Linked DNA regions of Homo sapiens: all the other regions are linked to region 3. Evidence: fine-mapped expression QTL. A gene starts in region 3. Each other region holds a variant in brackets. All regions are shown on one strand. Distances are from middle to middle. Region 1 overlaps CYSTM1 (cysteine rich transmembrane module containing 1). Region 2 overlaps PFDN1 (prefoldin subunit 1). Region 3 holds the start of PFDN1 (prefoldin subunit 1).

The links. PIP is the estimated chance that this variant, and not a neighbour inherited with it, causes the effect. A credible set is the group of variants that fine-mapping cannot tell apart.
Region 1: its variant is the best candidate, but not a certain one, in a credible set for the expression of PFDN1 in whole blood (TOPMed, PIP 0.54).
Region 2: its variant is the best candidate, but not a certain one, in a credible set for the expression of PFDN1 in whole blood (INTERVAL, PIP 0.64).

What each region holds. Positions count from the first base shown.
Region 1 is chr5:140,196,775-140,204,055 of GRCh38, forward strand. The region is part of intron 2 of CYSTM1 (cysteine rich transmembrane module containing 1); the gene reads left to right. Among named protein-coding and RNA genes, the nearest start is that of CYSTM1, 25 kb to the left of the region's middle. The variant C/G (reference allele first, on the strand shown) is at 3,062.
Region 2 is chr5:140,275,128-140,282,408 of GRCh38, forward strand. PFDN1 (prefoldin subunit 1) reads right to left here. Exons shown (of 4, transcript NM_002622.5): 3 at 6,322-6,406. Among named protein-coding and RNA genes, the nearest start is that of PFDN1, 24 kb to the right of the region's middle. RefSeq lists enhancers at 1-216, 217-717. The variant T/G (reference allele first, on the strand shown) is at 4,082.
Region 3 is chr5:140,299,210-140,306,490 of GRCh38, forward strand. PFDN1 (prefoldin subunit 1) reads right to left here and starts at 3,892. Exons shown (of 4, transcript NM_002622.5): 1 at 3,832-3,892; 2 at 1,207-1,373. The coding sequence starts at 3,864. RefSeq lists enhancers at 1-237, 3,629-3,908 and a silencer at 3,797-4,001.

The sequences.
Region 1 (7,281 bases), 100 kb before region 3:
ATTCCATTTATGTGAAATTCAAAAACAGACAAAAACTATGTATGATGCCAGAGATCAAAATAATGGTTACTCCTGGCTGTGGAGTTGGGAAACTAGGGTGGGACTGGTTATTCATTGGGTTAGGAACAAAGGAACTTTCTGGGGTGTTAGGAATATTCTGTATCTTAATCTTGATATAAACATTCTTCAAGATAGATAGTTATGACTTGTGTACTTTGCTGTACGTTTTATGTCAGCAGAGAAAGATAGCCCAGCATTTGAGTTATCCGGTAGACTCAACCCAATGCCTGCCTGGTGTTAGGTCTTTCACCTATAGCCCTCATGGTCTTCCTGTCCATTTCTAGGCCAATATTGTTTATACTGACTCTCTAACTAGCATTTGATGAGTTTAGAACTTTATTGAGTTTGTTTAGAATAAGTGCTTCCTAGGTTCAGTGGACTTTGTCCACTGTTCATGCAGAAAATACAGATTTGGTCATCTTTCTTACCTTTCATGTAATTTAAGTATTGATGTCAGCCTTTTTGATGAAAAATAATTTCTTAATTCTTTTTAGGGTTAAAAGGCTCCTTAGTTCAGTGTTACCAATCACGATTGATTTCACAAATGCAGTTGAAAGCTGTTTAATATCCTTTCCTATGGATATACCCAGGAATTTATTTCTCTGTCATTAGCTTGTGAATTATTAACTGCCCAGATCCTTTCTGCACCCAAACATAGCAGGTAGTGCCAAATGGTCAAATTTTGTCACCTGGGGTCCATGTTCTGTGAATGGGACTCTTGGAAGAATGTAGCCTCACTGAGTGATGAACCCTTTAGGGACCCATTTTATTCCTTGCTTTGGTATTGCTTGTGGGATTCTCAGTCAGAATTATGTGTTCTCATGCTGTGTATCTGAGCTCTATATGGAAATTTAAGCTTTTTCTTTCCAGCTGAATGATTTTAGATTTATCTACTACTGTAGATACTCTCTCCACTCAAGTTCAAGTGTGTGGCATATTATGTTAATGGATACATAGGTAGAAATGGTTTCTTTTTCAAAGGAGGGAGGATCTCCTTTATCCTTAATTGGCGTCTGGTAATTAGTTAGGGCTTAATAAAGGTGTGATGAATGGATGAGCAGGGTCGGGTAGATGGCTAACCTAAGCAGAACCTTCCTTGGTCATCTGTTTATGTTTTAGAATTCATGTGTCAGAGATTGTAGCAAAAAAACCCACCTTTTGTTTTTTTAAGAAGCCAACCTTTTGGAAGCCATGTGATTGGAAGCAGCAAGTGCTTGTAGGAATAAGGTCTCCCAGAAGAGCATACCTGCAGATTATGTCAAGGATCTCCTGGGTGGTTTTTAAGAATAACAACTAGTATTTGTTGAGCACCATGCTTGGTGTTAGCTTTATGTAATCTTCACAACAACCCCATAGTATCAGTCCCATGTTATAGGAGTGGAATCTGAGACTCAGAAAGGTTGTTTCAGTTATCTGTTGTATAACATATCACCCCCAACTCACTGGCTTAAAACAACAATGATTTATTATTTCTCATGATTCTCTGAGTTGGCTGGGAGGCTCTTCTTGCTTCGTGTGATCTTTCGTGGGGTCACTCTTGTTACTTAATTCAGCTGTCAGCCTGTCTGGGTGTAGGCTATCCAAGATGACCTCACTGACATGAGTAGGGTCTTGGTTTGCCTCCACGAGGCCTCTCTCAGCACATAGTCTGTCATCATTAGGTGGTCTAGCTTAAGCTGCTTTACATGACAACTAGCTTCCAATAGAGTGAAAGTGGAAGCTGCCAGGATTTTGGGCTAGGCCCAGAACTGGCACAGCATCACTTACCCCTTATTCCAGTATTCAAAACAAGTCTCAAGGCCAGTCACTTTCAACAGGAGGGGGAACAGATATCACCTTCCTCCTCCCCCTCTTTTTTTGGTATATTCGACATACAATTCATGTACCATACAATTTACCCATTTAAAGTTGTACAATCCAATGGTTTTCAGTATATCAACAGAGTTTTTCAACCATCACCACTATCATAATTCCAGAACATTTTCTTTTATTATTATACTTTAAGTTCTAGGATACATGTGCAGAATGTGCAGGTTTGTTACATAGGTATGCATGTGCCATGGTGGTTTGCTGCACCCGTCATCTACATTGGGTATTTCTCCTAATGCTATCCCTCCCCTAGCCCCCCAACTCCCCGACAGGCCCCAGTGTGTGGTGTTCCCCTCCCTGTGTCCATGTGTTCTCTTTGTTCAGCTCCCACTTATGAGTAAGAACATGTGGTGTTTGGTTTTCTGTTCCTGTGTTGGTTTGTTGAGAATGATGGTTTCCAGCTTCATCCATGTCCCTGCAAAGGACATGAACTCATCCTTTTTTATGGCTGCATAGTATTCCATGGTGTATATGTGCCACATTTTCTTTATCCAGTCTATCATTGATGGGCATTTGGGTTGGTTCCAAGTTTTTGCTATTGTGAATAATGCTGCAATAAACATACCTGTGCATGTGTCTTTATAGTAGAATGACTTATAATCCTTTGGGTATATACCCAGTAATGGGATTGCTGGGTCAAATGGTATTTCTGGTTCTAGATCCTTGAGGAATTACCACACTGTCTTCCACAATGGTTAAACTAATTTACGCTCCCACCAGCAGTGTAAAAGTGTTCCTATTTCTCCACATCCTCTCCAGCATCTATTGTTTCCTGACTTTTTATTGTTTTTGTTTTGTGTTTTTTGAGATGGAGTCTCACACTGTCGCCCAGGCTGGAGTGCAGTGGCGCGATCTTGACTTACTGCAACCTCCACCTCCGGGGTTCAAGCGATTCTCCTGCCTCAGCCCCCTGAGTAGCTGGGATTACAGGCATGCGCCACCATGGCTGTAATTTTTGTATTTTTAGTAGAGATGAGGTTTCACCATATTGGTCAGGCTGGTGTTGAATTCCTGACCTAGTGTTCTGCCCACCTTGGCCTCCCAAAGTGCTGGGATTACATGCGTGAGCCACGGTGCCCAGCCGTTTCCTGACTTTTTAATGATCACCATTCTAACTGGCGTGAGATGGTAT[C/G]TCATTGTGGTTTTGATTTGCATTTCTCTAATGACCAGTGATGATGAACTTTTTTTCATATGTTTTTGGACGCATAAATGTCTTCTTTTGAGAAGTGTCTGTTCATATTCTTTGCCCACTTTTTGATGGGGTTGTTTTTTTCTCATAAATTTGTTTAAGTTCCTTGTAGATTGTGGATATTGGCCCTTTGTCAGATGGATAGATTGCAAAAATTTTCTCCCATATTGTAGGTTGCCTACATATGGGATGATGATAGTTTCTTTTGCTGTGCAGAAGCTCTTTAGTTTAATTAGATCCCATTTGTCAGTGTTGGCTTTTGTTGCCATTGCTTTTGGTGTTTTAGCCATGAAGTCTTTGCCTATGCCTATGTCCTGAATGGTATTGCCTAGGTTTTCTTCTAGGGTTTTTATGGTTTTAGGTCTTACGTTTAAGTCTTTAATCCATATTGAGTTAATTTTTGTATAAGGTATAAGGAAGGGGTCCAGTTTCAGTTTTCTGCACATGGCTAGCTAGTTTTCCCAATACCATTTATTAAATAGGGAATCCTTTCCCCATTGCTTGTTTTCGTCAGGTTTGTCAAAGATCAAGTGGTTATAGATGTGTGGTGTTATTTCTGAGGCCTCTGTTCTGTTCCATTGGTCTATATACAGAACACTTTCATCACCCCAAAAAGAAACCCTTTAGCAATCTCTCCCCATTTCCTTCCACTCTTCCCCCCGGCCTTTTTTTTTTTTTTTTTTTTTGAGGCAGAGTCTCACTCTGTCGCCCAGGCTGGAGTGCAGTGGCACAATCTCGGCTCACTGCAAACTCTGCCTCCCGGGTTCACGCCATTCTCCTGCCTCAGCTTCCCGAGTAGCTGGGACTACAGATGCCTGCCACCATGCTCAGCTAATTTTTTTATTTTTAGTGGAGACGGGGTTTCACCGTGTTAGCCAGGATGGTCTTGATCTCCTGACCTGATGATCCGCCCACCTCAGCCTCTCAGAGTGCTGGGATTACAGGCGTGAGCCATCGCGCCCGGCCTCTTCCCCACCATTAATCTACTCTGTCTCTATAGATTTGTCTGTTCTGGACATTTTGTATAAATGGAACCATACAATATTTGGTCTTTTGTTACATGCTTCTTTCACTTAGCTTGATATTTCCAGGGTTCATCTATGTTGTAGCATGTATCAATACTTTATTCCTTCCTATTGCCAAATAATATTCCATTGTGGATATACCACGTTTTAGTTATCCTTTCATTGGTTGATGGGCATTTAGGTTGTTTCTACTTTATGGCTATTAGGAATAATGAATAATGGCTGTTATAAACATTTGTATAAAATAGACTCCATCCTGGAGGAATGGCATGTGAATACAGGGTGAGAGGAATTGGTGACCGTCTGTGCAAACAGTCCACCACATTCTGCCCTTTGCTCTCAACAATTTACATCCCCCTCATATGCAAAATATATCCACCCCCTTCCACCACCACTAGATGTCTCATCCAATAATTACATCAGCTTGAAATCCAGAATATTATCATCTAGGTAGTCTATATGTAGGTAAGGCCTCTAACCTGCCATACTGGTCCATATACCCTAACTTTGTTCATGCTGCTTCCTTTACTTCCCACCTCTCATTCCCACTCTGCCACAACCTACCCTACACATCTCTGGCGATCAAAAGAAAATATCTCTTCTTCCTTGAAGCTTTTGCTTACCTATACTATACCTCCAGTAGAATTTACCACTCCTATTTGCTTCAACTGCACCCTATACAGACTTCTTTCAGAGCCCTTCTTCTTGCTCCAGATTCAATAGTGTCTACCTTATGTACAGTCCATTTTAGCTTTTTTATGTCTGAATTCAATCAACCTTGCTCTTAGTGTTTAGGCTTTCACTGTTTGTTTTGGTCAAGACTCTTAAGGCTACAAGTGATAGAACCTTAGCCTTAGATATTAACCAGCAACGGAGGTTCACCAGACATCTGAGTAAAGAAAGCCTCCAAGATAAAAGATGATGATCCAAACAGAAAAAAGGGATTCTGAGGGAACAAACATTGCAGGGAGAAGAAAACCCTCCTACCAGAAAGTGGGGGAATCCTCTAATACTCTTTTTTTTTTTTTTTTTTTTTTTGACGGAGTCTTGCTCTGTCATCCAGGCTGGAGTGCAGTGGCGCAATCTCGGGTCACTGCAACCTCCGCCTCCCAGGTTCAAGTGATTCTCCTGTCTCAGCCTCCCGAGTAGCTGGGATTACAGGCATACGCCACCAAGCCCAGCTAATTTTTGTATTTTTAGTAGAAATGGGATTTCACTGTATTGGCCAGGCTGGTCTCAAACTCCTGACCTCAGGTGATTCACCCTCCTCGGCCTCCTAAAGTGCAGGGATTACAAGCATGAGTCACTGCGCCTGGCCTGCTAATATTCTTAAGTTATACTGAAGATAAATCTTATTGAAATAAGAGCAGTGGTACTGTATAAAATGAACTCTGGAAACAAAAGCACTTAGCAAAGAACAATGTGAAACTGATCTCACCCTAAGGATTAGATCCAAAAGGTCCATTTGGCAGCCAGATCTTGCCAGAGCAGAATTTAAGGCATTTGCCATAGGTGGAAGGTTGATGTATGTTTTGGTTATCTATTGTTACGTCACAAACCACCCCCAATCTTAGAGGTTCCATAATTTGGACAGGGCTTGAGCAGAAAGATTGATTCATCTCTGCTCCTTGTTGGCACCTACTGAGGCTGGAACGTAGATAATGATAAGCAATTTGCTGGGTTGGATTTGTACACTTTCTACCGTCCAATATGATCCATCAACTTTCTTCTTGGCTTTGTATTATGTCCAAAAGGGTACTCTTGGATTGACTTACACTTGCAATACAGAGAAAGAAGCCATTTGGTTTGGCCAGTGCTTTAGAAGGGAGAAAGGGGTGGGAGCATGATGTCCAACTGCTGGGAGGGGTCAGGAGGCACCTACATGCTAGTATTTCTGTGTGCATTCCAAACCAGTGTTGGGTTTCTCCACTTCTACTGGCTTTGTTTGATCTTATTGTCCTTGAAGATTTGATTAACTTCAACCCTATTCTGTCAGCTGTTTCAGTTCCAATGGAACCTTGTAATTCTGGCTCATTATAACAAGAAATTATCTCAAATCCAAAAAGAAAAAAAAATCACGTCTGGTATTTCAGCTGACATGATTGAAACAGCGTAGGGTTGGTTGTCTCTGTCCCTCTGCATGGTCTCTCAGTGCTGCTGTCACAGCATGAGAGTTTCAGAGTAGGTGGGTTTTTTCCATGTTACAATGCAAGAATGGAATCTGCCAGGCCTTCCTGCACATGTACCCCTGAACATAAAATAAAAGCCTTAAAAAAGAAATGAAACAAAAAACTTTCGATTTAACTTCTAATTTTGAAACAATTTCAGACTTAGAAAAACATTGCAAAGATAATACAAATGGTTCTGTATACCTTTCATCCCGATTTCCCCAAACCTTACATAGCCACAATACAATGATCCATCAGGCTTTTTCACCCCCTTGGCTCAGAAGTCACACAATGTCACATCCATCACACTCTTGGTCAAAGCAACATGAAGTCTATCTAGCCTAGTTTCAAGGGGAGGAAAATAGACTTCATTCCTTGTTGGGAGAGTGGTAAGTCACATTGCAAAAAGGCATATGGGATGGGAGATCTTTGGAAACATTACCACAAGTTTCAGTGGTGACAGGTGAATTCCTGTTGACTGAAACATTCTAAATAACAAAACTATTTCTAGATTCTAATAAATATGCCATAGTATCATAACTGTTTAAAGTGAAAAATTAAACACTATAACTAGGCTTATATCAGAATATAGGTGATCTGTCATTTTAAGGATACTCCTGTGAATTGGTTAGAAAGTCATGGAAGAAGGGGGTTTTTTATTTTATCACCAAATTGAAATGACTTCCACTCAGATACCTTGAATCATCAGAAGTAGAAGAGTCCTCACATGATCATCTGGGTTAGTTATTACCCTCTGACCTTATAGCAAACATCACTAGGCAATTACAGCTCCTTTCACTAAGCGTGAATACAGCTTCAGCATACCCCAGCATTCTAGACAGGAACCGTGAATAGATTTGAATTGTTAGGAGTAAGACGAACCCATTTACCATTCCTTGCTAGGTTAACCCCCTCTTTTTAGAGACATTTAAACTGAAGCCCAGAGAAGTTTAGTGACTTTCCAGGGTCA
Region 2 (7,281 bases), 24 kb before region 3:
GCCAGGCGCGGTGGCTCACACCTGTAATCCCAGCACTTTGGGAGGCCAAGGCAGGCAGATCACGAGGTCAGAAGATTGAGACCATCCTGGCTAACACGGTGAAACCCTGTCTCACTAAAAATACAAAAAAAATTAGCTGGGCATGGCGGGGTGTGCCTGTAGTCCCAGCTACTCGGGAGGCTGAAGCAGGAGAATGGTGTGAACCTGGGAGGCGGAGCCTGCAGTGAGCCGAGATTGCGCCACTGCACTCCAGCCTGGGAGACAGAACGAGACTCTGTCTCAAAAAAAAAAAAAAAAGACAGTGCTTGTGTTTATTCTGCTAATAAGGAATATGACTCCCTATCAAGATTAACATGAGGGCAAGTAGTACCCCCACCCCTGCCTATAAGAGACAAGGGCCAGTAGATGAGGCCACTTGGCTGGCTGATGACATAGGGCACAACATGACAAAGCTACAAAAAGCTAAACAAAGTCTAGGTAAGCTTTGCACTCATAAATAAGATCAGAAAAAAGAAATCAGGAGAGGGCAAGTATAAAGAAACAGAAAGAACAAAGCTGGGTAAAAGGGAACCTAGCAAATACTAATGAAAATGGGGTATCAGGTTAGAGAACCTGAATCAGACCAGCACCTATGTCATGGAAAAGGTTTGTCCCTCCTGCCATCTACACAAACTGTGGGTAGAGGGTGGGGAAGCATACTCGGTGGGCCAAATCAGTAAAACAAGTTAACAGCTTTTATCAAAAACTGGAACTCTGACCCCAACCAATATGAACCTTACTCTTTCAGAGATGAAAACATGATAAATAGAAATAGCATGGCCTTTGTCTACAGAGTTGGGTATAAATTGTGCCTCCCCAACTTAATACAGGGTATCTCAGAAGAGAAATTGATGATGATGATGATGATGATGATGATGATGATGATGATGATGATAATTACAGAGGATTAAAATGAAGTAGATTAGACTGACAAGAAATACTAGGTCTAGAAGAAGAGACTGCAGATTTGAAAACAGGAGCAACACCAAGGACTTGGGGAAAATCATTTAGAGCTCTAAATCTGTATCAAGCTTCCAAAGTAATAGGAAACCATATTTATGATTTACTCAACTGGTGAGAGTTTATATTTCCAAATCCCTACAATGTGCTAAGAAACTAACAGAGTAACCAGAGAACACAAGAAAGAAGCAGCTAACTTAAGACTGAGGAATCAGAAAATGGTTCTCAGGAGAAGTAATTCTATGCTAAGATCTGAAGGATTAGTAGATGGAATTGATAAAGGCAGAGGGAGGAAGTTCCCAAGTGGAGATAACTACTTTTCGAAGATCTAGCAGAATGAAAAAAGAGCAAGCTCCAAAGACTGAGAGTATTGGCCAAGTGTGGTGGCTCATGCCTGTAATCCCAGCACTCTGGGAGGCAGAGGTGGGTGGATCATCTGAGGTCAGGAGTTCAAGACCAGTCTGGCCAACATGCAAAACCCTGTCTCTACTAAAAATACAAAAATTAGCTGGGCGTGGTGGCACACACCTGTAATCCCAGAAGGGATCTCCTGCTGAGGCAGGAGAATTGTTCCAACCCAGGAGGCAGAGGTTGCTGTGAGCCAAGATAGCGCCACTGCACTCCAACCTGGGTGACAGAGTGAGACACCGTCTCAAAAAAAAAAAAAAAAAAAAAAAAAGACTGAGAGTATTTTTGCATGGCTAAAGCATACAGTATAACAGAAGGCAGAGGAAATGAGAGGGATGAGAGAAATAAACAGAAATCATATCTTTAAAGGCCTTCAAGGTATGTTAAAAAGTTTGAACTGGTTGGGCACAGTGGCTCACTCACACCTATAATCCTAGCACTTTGGGAGGCCAAGGCGGGCAGATCACCCGAGGTCAGGAGTTCGAGACCAGGCTGGCCAAAATGTTGAAACCCCGTCTCTACTAAAAATACAAAAAAATTAGCTGGGCATAGTGGCACATGCCTGTAGTCCCAGCTACTCAGGAGGCTGAGGCAGGCAGGAGAATCACTTGTACCCAGGAGGTGGAGGTTGCAGTGAGCCAAGATCATGCCATTGCACTACAGCCTGGGCAACAAGATCAAAACTCCGTCTCAAAAAAAAAAAAAAAGTTTGAACTTAACCCTAAGAACAACTATTGGTTTTACATGAGAGAGTAATATGATCAGATTTAACATTTTAGAAAGGTCATTCTAACTTAAATATGTTATAAAAAGAACTGAACGAGAGAAGGCTGGATATGGTAAAATCAGTTAATATCCTACTGCAGATGGTGGTGGCAGCCAGTTCAAAGGTGGGGAAAAATTCCAAAAGGAAATATCATTAATAAACAAAATAAGGAAGAAGTAATCTTCAGAAATACAAATTTTCCAGAATTTATTAAAAAAAAAACACTAATCCTCAGATTCAGGAAACCCAACAAATTCTAACTAAGATAAAGAAAAAAATATTAGCCACGCGTGGTAGCATGCCTGTGGTCTCAGCTACTTGGGAGGCTGAGGTGGGAGGATTGCTTAAGCCTGGGAGGTGGAGGCTGCAGTGAGCTGAGATCACCCAACTACAAGCCAACCTGAGTGACAGAGTGAGACCCCATCTCAAATTAAAAAAAAAAAGAAAAGGAATAAATCGACACCTAAACACATCCCAGAGAAACTACAAAGCATGAAAGACATAGACAAGTAAAAACAGGTAAAGAGAAAAGACAAATTAACAACAATTAGACTAACAGATGACTTCTTAACAGCAACAGTGGAAGCCACAAGTCAGTAGAATGGTTATCTTTAAAAGAGCTGACAGGTCAGGTGCTGTGGCTCACACCTGTAATCCCAGCACTTTGGGAGGCTGAGGTGGGGAGATCACTGGAGGTCAGGAGTTCAAGACCAGCCTGGCCAACATGGTGAAACCCAAACCCCGTCTCTACTAAAGATACAAAAAGTAGCCAGGCATGGTGGCTGTAATCCCAGCTACTCAGGAGGCTGATGCAGAAGAATCGCTTGAACCCAGAAGGCGGAGGCTGCAGTGAGCCAAGATCATGCCACTGCACTCCAGCCTGGACAACAGAGCAAGATGCCATCTCAAAACAATAAAAAATAAATAAATATAAACAGAAGAGCTGAGAAATTCCTAACATAAAACAAAATAAGACATACGCCCCAGTCAGGCATGGTGGCTCACACCTGTAATCCCAGCACTTTGGGAGGCCAAGGTGGGTGGATCACAAGGTCAGGAGTTCGAGACCAGTCTGGGCAACATGGTGAAACCCCATCTCTACTAAAAATACAAAAATTAGCCAGGCATGGTGGGCCTGTAGTCCCAGGTACTCAGGAGGCTGAGGCAGAAGAATCGCTTGAACCTTTGGGGCAGAGGTGGCAGTGAGCCAAGACACACCACTGGACTCCAGCCTGGGACAGAATGAGACTCTGTCTCAAAAAAAAAAAAAAAAAAAAAAAAAAAAAACAAAAAACAAAACATAAGCTCCAAACTTCGTATACAGTAATAATGAGCACTTGCCCCCCCAACACTGTATTCTCTAAATATCACTGCCCACTAAACTGACAGATTAAGGAGAAATTGATAAACACTGTCATAGAGGAAGATTCATCACATCTCTCAGTAACTAAATGAATAAGCAGATGATAATTCAGTAAGATACACACAAAATTTGAACATCACAATTAACAGTGTATATGTGCATAAGTGCACATGTGGGGGTGTGCTGAAGTAATAAAACCATAAAGTTGTAGCAGTGGAAAAGTATAGGATTGTTTCAGAGAAGAGAGGGGAGTATACACTGGGTGATACTGTTAAAAGCACAGATTAGGGAAGTACTGGAGAACATATTAAATGCTGAAATAAGGCTCATGGTAAGGAGCCCATGATGATGGGAATCAAAAAAAGAAATTGTATATAAACTGGAGTTATATTACTAAAGTAGCAAGATAAACTGTCAAATGATGGAAAACAGTATATATAGCATAATTCCTATTTTAAAAAAAGGTTGTGTATATATATGCATGTATGAATGTCTTGATATAAATATAGAAGTTTGGAATGATACAGAAACCGTAGAGGTGACAT[T/G]TGGATGTACCGAGGGTGGAAAAACAAAGTAATATTTTCATTGTTTAATCATTTGTTTTATATTTTATTTATGGTGTACTTCTATTGCTTTTATAATGTAAGTAACATGTAAAATGAAAAATTAAAAAAGAAAAAAGAACTTCCTAAAAGATAAAACATTCTACCAGTATTTGAGACACTCAACAAAAGGAAACTTGCAGAAAGTAAATTTCTTAATATTCACCAGAACTCAGCAGTACGGTATTGATAAAATCATCACCTGTGGCAATTTCACCTTGATAATTGGGGTTTTTGTGTTTTTTTTTTTCCCTAAAGAGACAAGGTCTTGTTATGTTGCGCAGGCTGGAATGCCTCAGGCAATCCTCCCGCTTCAGCCTCCCGTAGCTGGGACTACAAGCATTTGCCACTGTGCCCACTCTGCTAATTTTTTAATCATGAAAGTTAACAACAAAAAAAGTTAATGTATACTTGTTATAATTTATTATTACAGAGATTGTAAGAAAAAAATCAAGGCCAGGCGCAGTGGCCTATGATTCCCAGCACTTGGGAGGCCGAGGCAGGCAGATCATCTGAGGTCGGGAGTTCGAGACCAGCCTGACCAACAAGGAGAAATCCCATCTCTACTAAAAACACAAAATTAGCAGGGCGTGGTGGCGCATGCCTGTAATCCCAGCTACTTGGGAAGCTGAGACAGGAGAATCGCTTGAAGCCAGGAGGCGGAGGTAGCAGTGAGCCGAGATCACACCATTGCACTTCAGCCTGGGCAACAAGAGCGAAACTCCGTCTCAAAAAAAAAAAAAAAAAACAAAAAAAGAAAAGAAAAGAAAAGAAAGAAAGAAAAAGAAAAAATCATTTATCCCTACGTCCCATCTAATTTCTTTAGGGTAAACAGTATTAACAATTTAATATATATCCTTACATATCATCTTCAATATTCATACACAAATGTTTGTTTTTTGTTTTCATAAAGAGAATTATATACATATTACCTTGCTACTTATTATTCATTAGGATAATTTTAAATATATTTACCTACAGTTGCAAAAATGCATTTTGTTTTATCTACATGAAATGATTCTGTTTGGGTTTTTAAAGATACTTTTGTTTCTTATGAGTGAAAACACAGATATCAAACTGAACCTCTTAGAACAGTTGAGCTGATTAAAATGTTAAAATAGGACACAACAACAATCTGGTTATCACAGGCTGTTTTTTCTTTACTTGGTTTTTTTGCTTTTTTGTCTTGTTTTTACAATACACTTTTCTAAGCTGCAAATCTATTATCAAGTTTGTTTCAACTATCAGTAGTTAAAAATAAGCCTAAGTAACCTAAGATACTGCATACTCCCAGGCCAGGCCAATTCAGTGCCCCTAAGAAATCCTCAGGAGGCTACAAGTTGTAGCTCCCAAATTCAGCAGAGGGCTGAGTTAGATTCTGATCCTCTGCCTCAAATAGTACTTACAGAAATTAGATGAAATGACCTATGAAGTCAATGTATCCACCCACATGTTGGGAAATCTTGGTCCCTAAGAAATAACCAGCTTTTTGTCCAGTCTAACTTTTACTATACACAGGATGGGCCTTTCACCAAAGCCCAAGAAGAATATCTCACTAAAGGTCTTAATGTATAAATAAATTATAATAATAAAAATAATAAAGTAATATTTCCAAAGATTTGCTTACTGTTACCTATCATCTTTTTCCCTAGCTAAAAAGAAAAAATTGTTCTCATTGGAGCACCATCCTTCAGATAGTTAATTGGTTATAGCTTGCTACTTTGTCCTTATATAGAACCTAATTTAGGTTAAAGAAATTACAATGTGTAAAAAAGACCCTATACCAAGATCCTCTAAAATTTATCATTATTACCCACTCTCCTGCCCATCCACCACAATCCACTACACAAGTGTTGTTTAAATATACATTACATTTTGTTTATGGTTTTGTTTTTTTTAAAGAATAAACACATTCAAGGGCAATGAACAAAATACATTCAGGTTAAAACCATCTCATCAAAATTCTCTGCAGTTCCAAAGAAGAGACTATTCTTTTTTTTTTGTTTTGGTCTTATATGCGCTATGAATATGAATATGACAGCTTCACGGCTCCAACGTAATTATAGAAAATAAAAATAATATGACATTACTTTGGCAGGCAGGCATACATTTTCATTTAATATGACACAATAAGATTACTACTTTCTCCCAAAAGTTAACTCCTATTGCCAATAAAAACTTACTTCTAGTTCTTTAATTTTTTCTTCTGCTATTTTCTGCTTCTCTAACAGCTGACTGTGAATTGCTTCCTTGGACTGAAGAATAAACCTATGAAACACAAGAAAGTTGAAAATTAAGCCACATGACTATTGAATTCATCGAAATCAATAGCTACATACTACAAATATTAAACTGAGCAAATTAAAAGGACAAATGCATATTAACATAATACGTCAAGCTCAGGAAACCACCAGAAGTTTAAACCTTCTTGGCTGAGAAGGAATAAAGGCTTAAAAGTAGATTCTGCTTTCTTATTTAATATAGGAATCAGGCAGGGAACAGTGGTGTGGGCCTACAGTCCCAGATACTCAGGAGGCTGAGGTGGGAGGATTGTTTGAGCCCAGGTGTCTGAGTCTAGTCTGGGCAACATAGCAAGACCCTGTCTCATTAAAAAAAAAAGCGGGGGGGTTGCGGGAGTTGGGCACAGTGGCTCACACCTGTAATCCCAGCACTCTGAGAGGCCGAGGCAGGAGGACTGCTTGAGCCTGGGAGTTCAAGACTAGCCCAGGCAACATGATGAGACCCATCTCTACAAAAAATAAATTTAAAATATTAGTCAGGCACAGTGGCACACGCCTGTAGTCCCAGCTACTAGGGAGGCTGAGGTGGGAGGATCAATTGAGACTGAGATATCAAAGCTGTAGTGAGCCATGATTGTGCTACTGCACTCCAGCTTGGGTAACAGAGCAAGATCCTGTCTTAAAAACATTAAAAAAAAAAAAAAAAAGAAAAGAAAATCAGGCTTCAAGTAGATTCATATGTAAAAGAAAAAATAATAAAGGAATAAAAATATATCATACGCTAAGAGAAAAGTCAACATACAAACAAATACCCTATAAGTTTTGTTTTTTCAGTTATCTGTTTCAATTTTTATCTAGATATTTTTTAAACTATATTTGTAAAGTGGAGCGCCCCTCCATTTT
Region 3 (7,281 bases):
ATAATATTGCTATAAACATTTTCCATGACAAATCATTTTTATTACTGAACTTACACTTAAGTACCTAATCATAGACAGAACAGGAAAGTAAGCACTTAAGAAATGTACTTTGAGGCCAGGGGCGGTGGCTCACGCCTGTAATCCCAGCACTGTGGGAGGCCAAGGCGGGCGGATCAAGAGGAGAGATTGAGACCATCCTGGCCAACACGGTAAAACCCCATTTCTACTAAAAATACAAAAATTAGCCGGGCATGGTAGCATGCGCCTGTAGTCCCAGCTACTCAGGAGGCTGAGGCAGAATTGTTTGAACCCAAGAGGCGGAGGTTGCAGTGAGCCAGAATCACACCACTGCACTCTAGCCTGGCAACAGAGCGAGACTCTGTCTCAAAAAAAAAAAAAAAATGTACTTTAAAGTCTAAACTTAAACACTTTAATTAATCTACCTGAAGTTCAGCTCCTCATTTTAAAAAAAGAAAGCATTTAATTAGATAATCTTTAAAGTTATTTCTAAGATACTTTAACCTGCCGGGTGTGGTGACTCATATCTGTAATCCAGCACTTTGGGAGGCTGAGGTGGGCGGATCAGGAGGTCAGGAGTTCCAGACCATCCTGGCAAATATGGTAAAACCCCGTCTCTACTAAAAACACAAAAATTAGCAGGGCGTGGTGGCAAGCGCCCGTAATCCCAGTCACTCAGGAGGCTGAAGCAGGGGAATCGCTTGAACCCAGGAGACGGAGATTGCAGTGAGCCAAGATCGGGCCATTGCACTCCAGCCTGGGCGATATAGCGAAAACTCCGTCTCAAAAAGAAAAAGATACTTACTTTAAACCAAAGTTTCTTTTGTTTTGAGACAGAGTCTAGCTCTGCTGCCCAGGCTGGAGTGCAGTGGCATGATTTCGGCTCACTGCAACCTCCACCTCCGGGGTTCAAGCGACTCTCCTGCCTCAGCCTCCCAAGTAGCCAAGACTACAGGCAAGTGCCACCATGCTCAGCTAATCTTTGTATTTGTGGTAGATACAGGGTTCCACCATACTGGCCAACAGGCTGCCCTCAAGTGATCCACTCGCCTCGACCTCCCAAAGTGCCAGGATTACAGGCATGAGCCACCACTCCTGGCCTAACCCAAGTTTTAAGATGAACAAATTCTATTTAACTCGGACAAAAGCACTCCCAAAATAACTCCATTAAGGACACATTTTACTTACATTCTTCCTACACCTTCATACATGTTAGTCTCATCTACCAAAGTCATGATCTCTGTATCTGTAAGATGTGCATGCTTTTTCGTTCTGTTTAGCTGTTCAATCTGTATGTCTGCGAGCTTCACCTTCTGTTGAGTGTCAATAACTTTGGCTTGAAGCTCTGTGAAGGCCTAATAAAAACAAGTCCATGATTTAGTAGGTAAAACATTTTACAGGAAACATTTACCTCAAATCCAAATATATTAAAACAAAATATGCTAGCCAGAGACAAAGCTGTGAAATTTACCAAACATCAATAAAAGTCAACATAACTGTAAACAATCAAGTCACCATACTAAATACTGAATTTACAATCATCAGAAGATACAATCAGTGTGAAGCAAATCAAATGCATATTAAGTAATAACCATATTAAGTAGCAAGTACTCAAGGAGTAGTAAAAGAAATAAATGCAATAGTCAAGGATGAAATCCAGAGATTCAAAACAAGAACCATAAAAGTAATAACTCACTACATTTGTATTGCACAATTAGGTTTCAAAGCACTTTCTCACATTAGTTTGAAATATTAACATGGGAATATTAATATAAGAATATTAATGAGGAAATATAATAAATATCTCATTTATGCCTCTCAGTAATTCCATGAGTTAGCATTGGCAGTCTCATCATCCACAATTTACAAATTAAGTAACCAAATGAGTTAAGAGATAAAAGTGGCTTGCACAAGGTTGAACAACTACTGGGGGGAAGGCAGGTGTTATTTAAATCCATTTCTTCTAACCCCTTAGTTCAGCAATCTTTCCATTCCACTGTCTATAGTAATATTCATAATATGAACATTTTTAAGAGGAAGACCAAGAAAGAGAGTGAGAAAAAATGCAAAGCACTGGCAAAAGAATTGCATCATGATCTTCATCCACAGATACCAGGCCAAATTTGACCCTTGCGTACACTTACTTAACTGGAAGATAAACAGTTCTTGGATACTTTTGTTGAAGTGCCTGGAATGACTTTCACATGCTGTTAAATTTGTGCCTTAATAACATCTGTGACTGCAATGCACAGCAAAGGCTACTACATAATTTTTATTGTGACCTTGTTTTCACCTACTAGTAAGGTTTTGAAAGATTTACTTTGGGGAAGGGGAGGGGCCTGAAATTTCCTATTTGTCTCCACCCAAAAAAAGGACCCTGTAAAAACATTAGAAGATAAAACCTTTAAACAAGTTTTTTAATTAATTGGTTATCAAAATTATTCATTTTAAGTTTGTAATCATTTTCTTAGTTTGCATTCACCGCCCGCAAGTTTCAAATGTAGCAATAAATTCAAAAGTACCGGGAGGCAAATCCATTCACTAAACCCTGATTTAAATCGGTACTTTTAACAGAAGAAAAGGTAAATTTTTAGAATGCACAATTTTGTTTTGAAATGTAAAATTCCAGGTATCATCTGACTGCTCTATACAGCTTGCTAAGGAAGCTAGTATACCATTAAAGATGAGCTAGTATACTGTTAAAGATTAGAGACTCCACCTAAGAGCTAAATTTACAAGATTCAAGACAAGAAGAACAAAAGCAAGACACAAACACATAATATCCTCACAACACTAACAAAAGCTTCATTTGTTAGAAGCAACAGCTATTTCGGCTGTCCTATTTCTTTTACACAAGTTGACCACAGGCAGTCTTAACTAAGATGTTGCTCATCTGAAGAACTCAAAATAGTGGTCAAAAAAGTGTGAGATAAGGCAGAGAATACTGGATTCTAGTCCCAACTTCTGACAGACTTTTCTGGCACTGGTTCCTTTTCCAGAAAAGTAGATTTAAAATAGATAAATTCTAGGGTCCTTTCCAATCCACCCCACCGCACAAAGCATACTGGTTTGGGGTCATTAGTGGTGTTAGAATGCTGATCATTCTTAGATAGCAAAAATCTGAATAACAACACATTTATAAGCAACTGAGGAAAACAGGAAACCCAATTCCTTCCGATACCGGTTTTATTTGGAAAACTTTACTGGTTTTGTTTTGTTTTTGACAATTCCTTCAAAAGAAGGAGGTTTTGTTTTGTTTTGTTTGACGAGTCCTTCAAAAGAAGTGGAGGGGGGGCAAAATCCTGAAATGAACATTGCTGCTACAATGCTTGGTTTTCCGAACTGTAGATATTGCAACTTTCAAGGTACAGAACCGAATAAATGGCCTAAAAACAAAGGTTGGACTTGGAGTTTTTCAAAGCAAATGAGGCAGAATTACGGATGCCACAGCTCAGGCAAGGGGTCCGAAGGGACCCCCATTTGAAATGCTCTCTTTAGTTCTTACTATGAAAGTGAGTCCCTGAAGCCTCCAAACGCAACGAAATGTCTCTGGAGCTCAGAAAGACTGGACAAGCCCGAGACAGGCCCGCAGACTTACCCGACCCAGACCAACCGGCTCCTACCCAGCAAGAGCCGCTCGCCCCCCACCCCGTTTATGGAGACCCAGTGAGGCCTTAGGACTCTGGGAAACCATTCCCTAGTCCACTGGACCCTCCTTCCTTCTGCAAGGCTCGTGCCTCACTTGATATTCTTGTCTATAGTCCCCTCAGCCTCCAAAAAGAAGACCTCCGCCTGCCAAAGACCCTCTTTTACCTTCTTCAGCTCTAGATCCACGGGGGCGGCCATCTTGGTGCACTGTAAGCGCCTGCGCAGTGGGAGTTGGACTGAAATAGGGTGGGGAAGGGCGCGTCTTACTTTGTGCGCCGGTCTTTCTTCTGCGCCTGCGCATGAGTTGGACTAACCGGGCTTCTTATCTTTCTCTGAGAATTGACTCCTGAAATATTTGGGTTTCGGATTCCGTGTCTTCACTACCTGACCGGTCAGGTCTGGCTTGCTCCTCCGTATCTTCCAGACATAGCCCAACGCGCAGATTTCCCATGTGGCTTTAAGCAGTTTGCCAGCTAGCTTAATATGTGCTGCTAAATTGAGATGTATGTAGATGAGGTCAAACCCTCATCAGTCGATCAGTCCTTCAGCTAGTCGCTGTGCTCTCAGGAATGAGTAAGAGTAAGTCCAGAACCTCAGGCATGACAGTTTGGGAAAGACTATTGGAAAGCTTGTCTGGAGTGTTCTTTCCAAAACGAACTTATTACTTCCAAAAGCTTCCCAAAGACATTCTAGGCACAGTGGTTCTCAAGAGAGGCTGAATACGTTTGTTTAAAAACAAAAAAATGCAGGTTCTCTGGGTCTCATCTCAAACGTACTCAGAATCTTTGAGAATGGGGTCTGGAAATTTGCACTTTTGCAGACTACCCCAGTGACCTAATGGTGCAACTCCTCCGCGGATCACTTTTTTGAGAATCTCTGCCATAAAAGGACCTGGCATTTGAACCAGAATAGATAATAATTGACTTTTGGAAATGGAAAAAAAAGTTAACCTACTCTAAAAACTGTTATGCTAAGAGAAAGTGCTACATAAATAATTAGGAAATTTATTTTATTTTTTAAAAAAAGAAAGAAAGAGAGAAAGAAAACAAACTGTTAGGGAGATGAAAGGGCAGGGAATTTGGAACCAGCCTAATCTAGATTCAAGGCTTGGTCTGCCTTTAGCCTATGTCTGGTTCCATTTACTAATTGTGTGACTTTAAGCAAGTCACTTGGATATTTTGTGGGGTTTTTTTTTTTTTTTGTACGTTTGTTTGTTTCTTGAGACAGGATCTTGCTCTGTCACCCAGGCTCGAGTGCAATGGTGCAATCACGACTCACTCCAGCCTCTACCTCCCGCGCTCAAGCGATCCTCCCACCTCAGCCTCGTGAGTAGCGCTGGGACTACAGGCGCGCGCCACCCACACTCAGCTAATTTTTATATTTTTGTACAGACGGGTTTTCACCTTGTTGCCCAAGCTGGTCTCAAACTCCTGAGCTCAAACAATCCGCTCGCCTTGGTCGCCCAAAGTGCTGTAGTGCTTTGATATTAAAGGCTTGAGCCACCGCACCCGGCCACATTTTTTTTTTTTTTTTTTTTTTGAGCCAGGGTCTCGCTCTGTCACCCAGGCTGGAATGCAGTGGCACGATCTCGGCTCACTGCAACCTCTGCCTCCCAGGATCAAGTGATTCTCCTGCCTCAGCCTCCCGAGTAGCTGGGATTACAGGCGCCTGCCACCACGCCCGGCTAATTTTTGTAGTTTTGGTAGAGACGGGTTTCACCGTGTTGCCCAGGCTGGTCTCCAACTCCCAGCCTCAAGTGATCCGCCTGCCTCGGCCTCCCAAAGGGCTGGGATTACAGGCAAGCCACCACGTCCAGCATCTGCCACCTATTTTTAATGAGCTTCAGTCTTCTCATGTTTGAGAGTGACCATATTGACCTAACAGGGTTATTGTGAGAAATAAATGAGATCAGGATAAAAAGCTCCAAACATAGCTCCATGCACACAAGTAGATACTCAATAAATCACTGGTGTTAATCGCCGTCCTGTTTGTCTTTCAAAGTCCAGCAAATGGGCACTACATCCCCCATCACACAGAGCAAAGATAATCTCTCCTCTGAACTCCCCTCACAACATCTATTTCTCTCTCAAGGCATATAACACTGTCTACCTTTTTTTAGAAAACATTTTTCTTAGACTGTAAGCTCCTTGAAATCAAGAACTATGGAATAATGGTTCTTCCACCTCTTGTACCTAGAACACCTGTCACAGTGCATCACGGGAAAAAAATACAAAATGGATACTGGATGTGAATAAATTATTCTGGAAAAAAAAAAGAAGACTCATTCCTCCCCAATTTGAGAAAGAGTAAAAAGGATCTGATATTTTGATTCTCTGGGACCTTCTTAGATTCTCATTACAGATGATCAATAAATACTGACTGATTAGCCAGGCATGGTGGCATGCCCCTGTAGTCCCAGCTACTCAGGAGGCTGAGGCAGGAGAATTGTGTGAGGCCTGGAGGCCAAGGCTGCAGTGAGTGGGGATCAATTGTGTCATTGCACTCCAGCCTGAAAGACAGAGTGAGACCTTGTCTCAAAAAATAAAATAAAATAAAATAAAATAAAATAGTGATTGAATATTGAAATTCAAAAAAAGTCTGAAATACTGTCCTGTACATTACCTCATGAGACTTTTGAAAGAGTCCTCATAGAGATGTATGGACTGTAAAAGTTAAGAGCCTGGGCTAAGCTGTCAGACAACCTGGGTACAAATACTGATTATACTACTTAAGGGTAATATGATCTTAGGCAAGAGTCTTCTCTGCATTGTTTGTTTGGTCATTGTTTCTCTTTGTGTATTTGTATACTACTTCTTCCTCATGAGTTTAATTTCCTTTTTTTTTTTTTTTCTTTTTTGAGACATGGTCTCATTCTGTCACCCAGGCTAGAGTGCAGTGGTTCAATCTCAGCTCACTTCAGCCTCCACCTCCCGGGTTCCAGCAATTCTCCTGCCTCAGCCTCCCTAGTAGCTTGGATTACAGGTGCATGTCACCACCTGGCTACTTTTCGTATTTCTTGTAAAGATGGGGTTTCACCATGTTGGCCAGGCTGGTCTTGAACTCCTGACCCCAGGTGATCCACCTGCCTCAGCCTCTCAAAGTGCTGGGATTACAGGCATGAGCCACTGCACCCAGCCTAATTTCCTTCATGATAAAGGAAATCCTTCAGTAGGTTCTTTTAGTAAGAATGTCTGATAAGTAAATTCTCTTCATCTTTGTTTTACAGGTTGAATTGTGCCCCCCACAAAAGATATGTTGAAGTCCTAACTCCCAGTACCTCAGAATGTGACCCTATTTGAAAGTAGGGTTTTGGGACAGGCGTGGTGGCTCATACCTATAATCCTAGCAGTTTGGGAGACTGAGGCGGGAGGATTCTTTGAGCCCATGAGTTTGAGACCAGCCTGGACAATAGGGCGAGACCTCATCTCTACAAAAAATAAAAAAAATTAACCGAGTGTGGTGGCAGTTATCTATATTCCCAGTTACTTGGGAGGCTGCAATAGGTGCATTGCTTGAGCCCAGGAAATTGAGGCTCCAGTAAGCTATGATCTACCACTGCACTCCCACCTGGGTGACAGAGCAAAGCCATGTCTCAAAAAATAAAAAGAAAGGGAG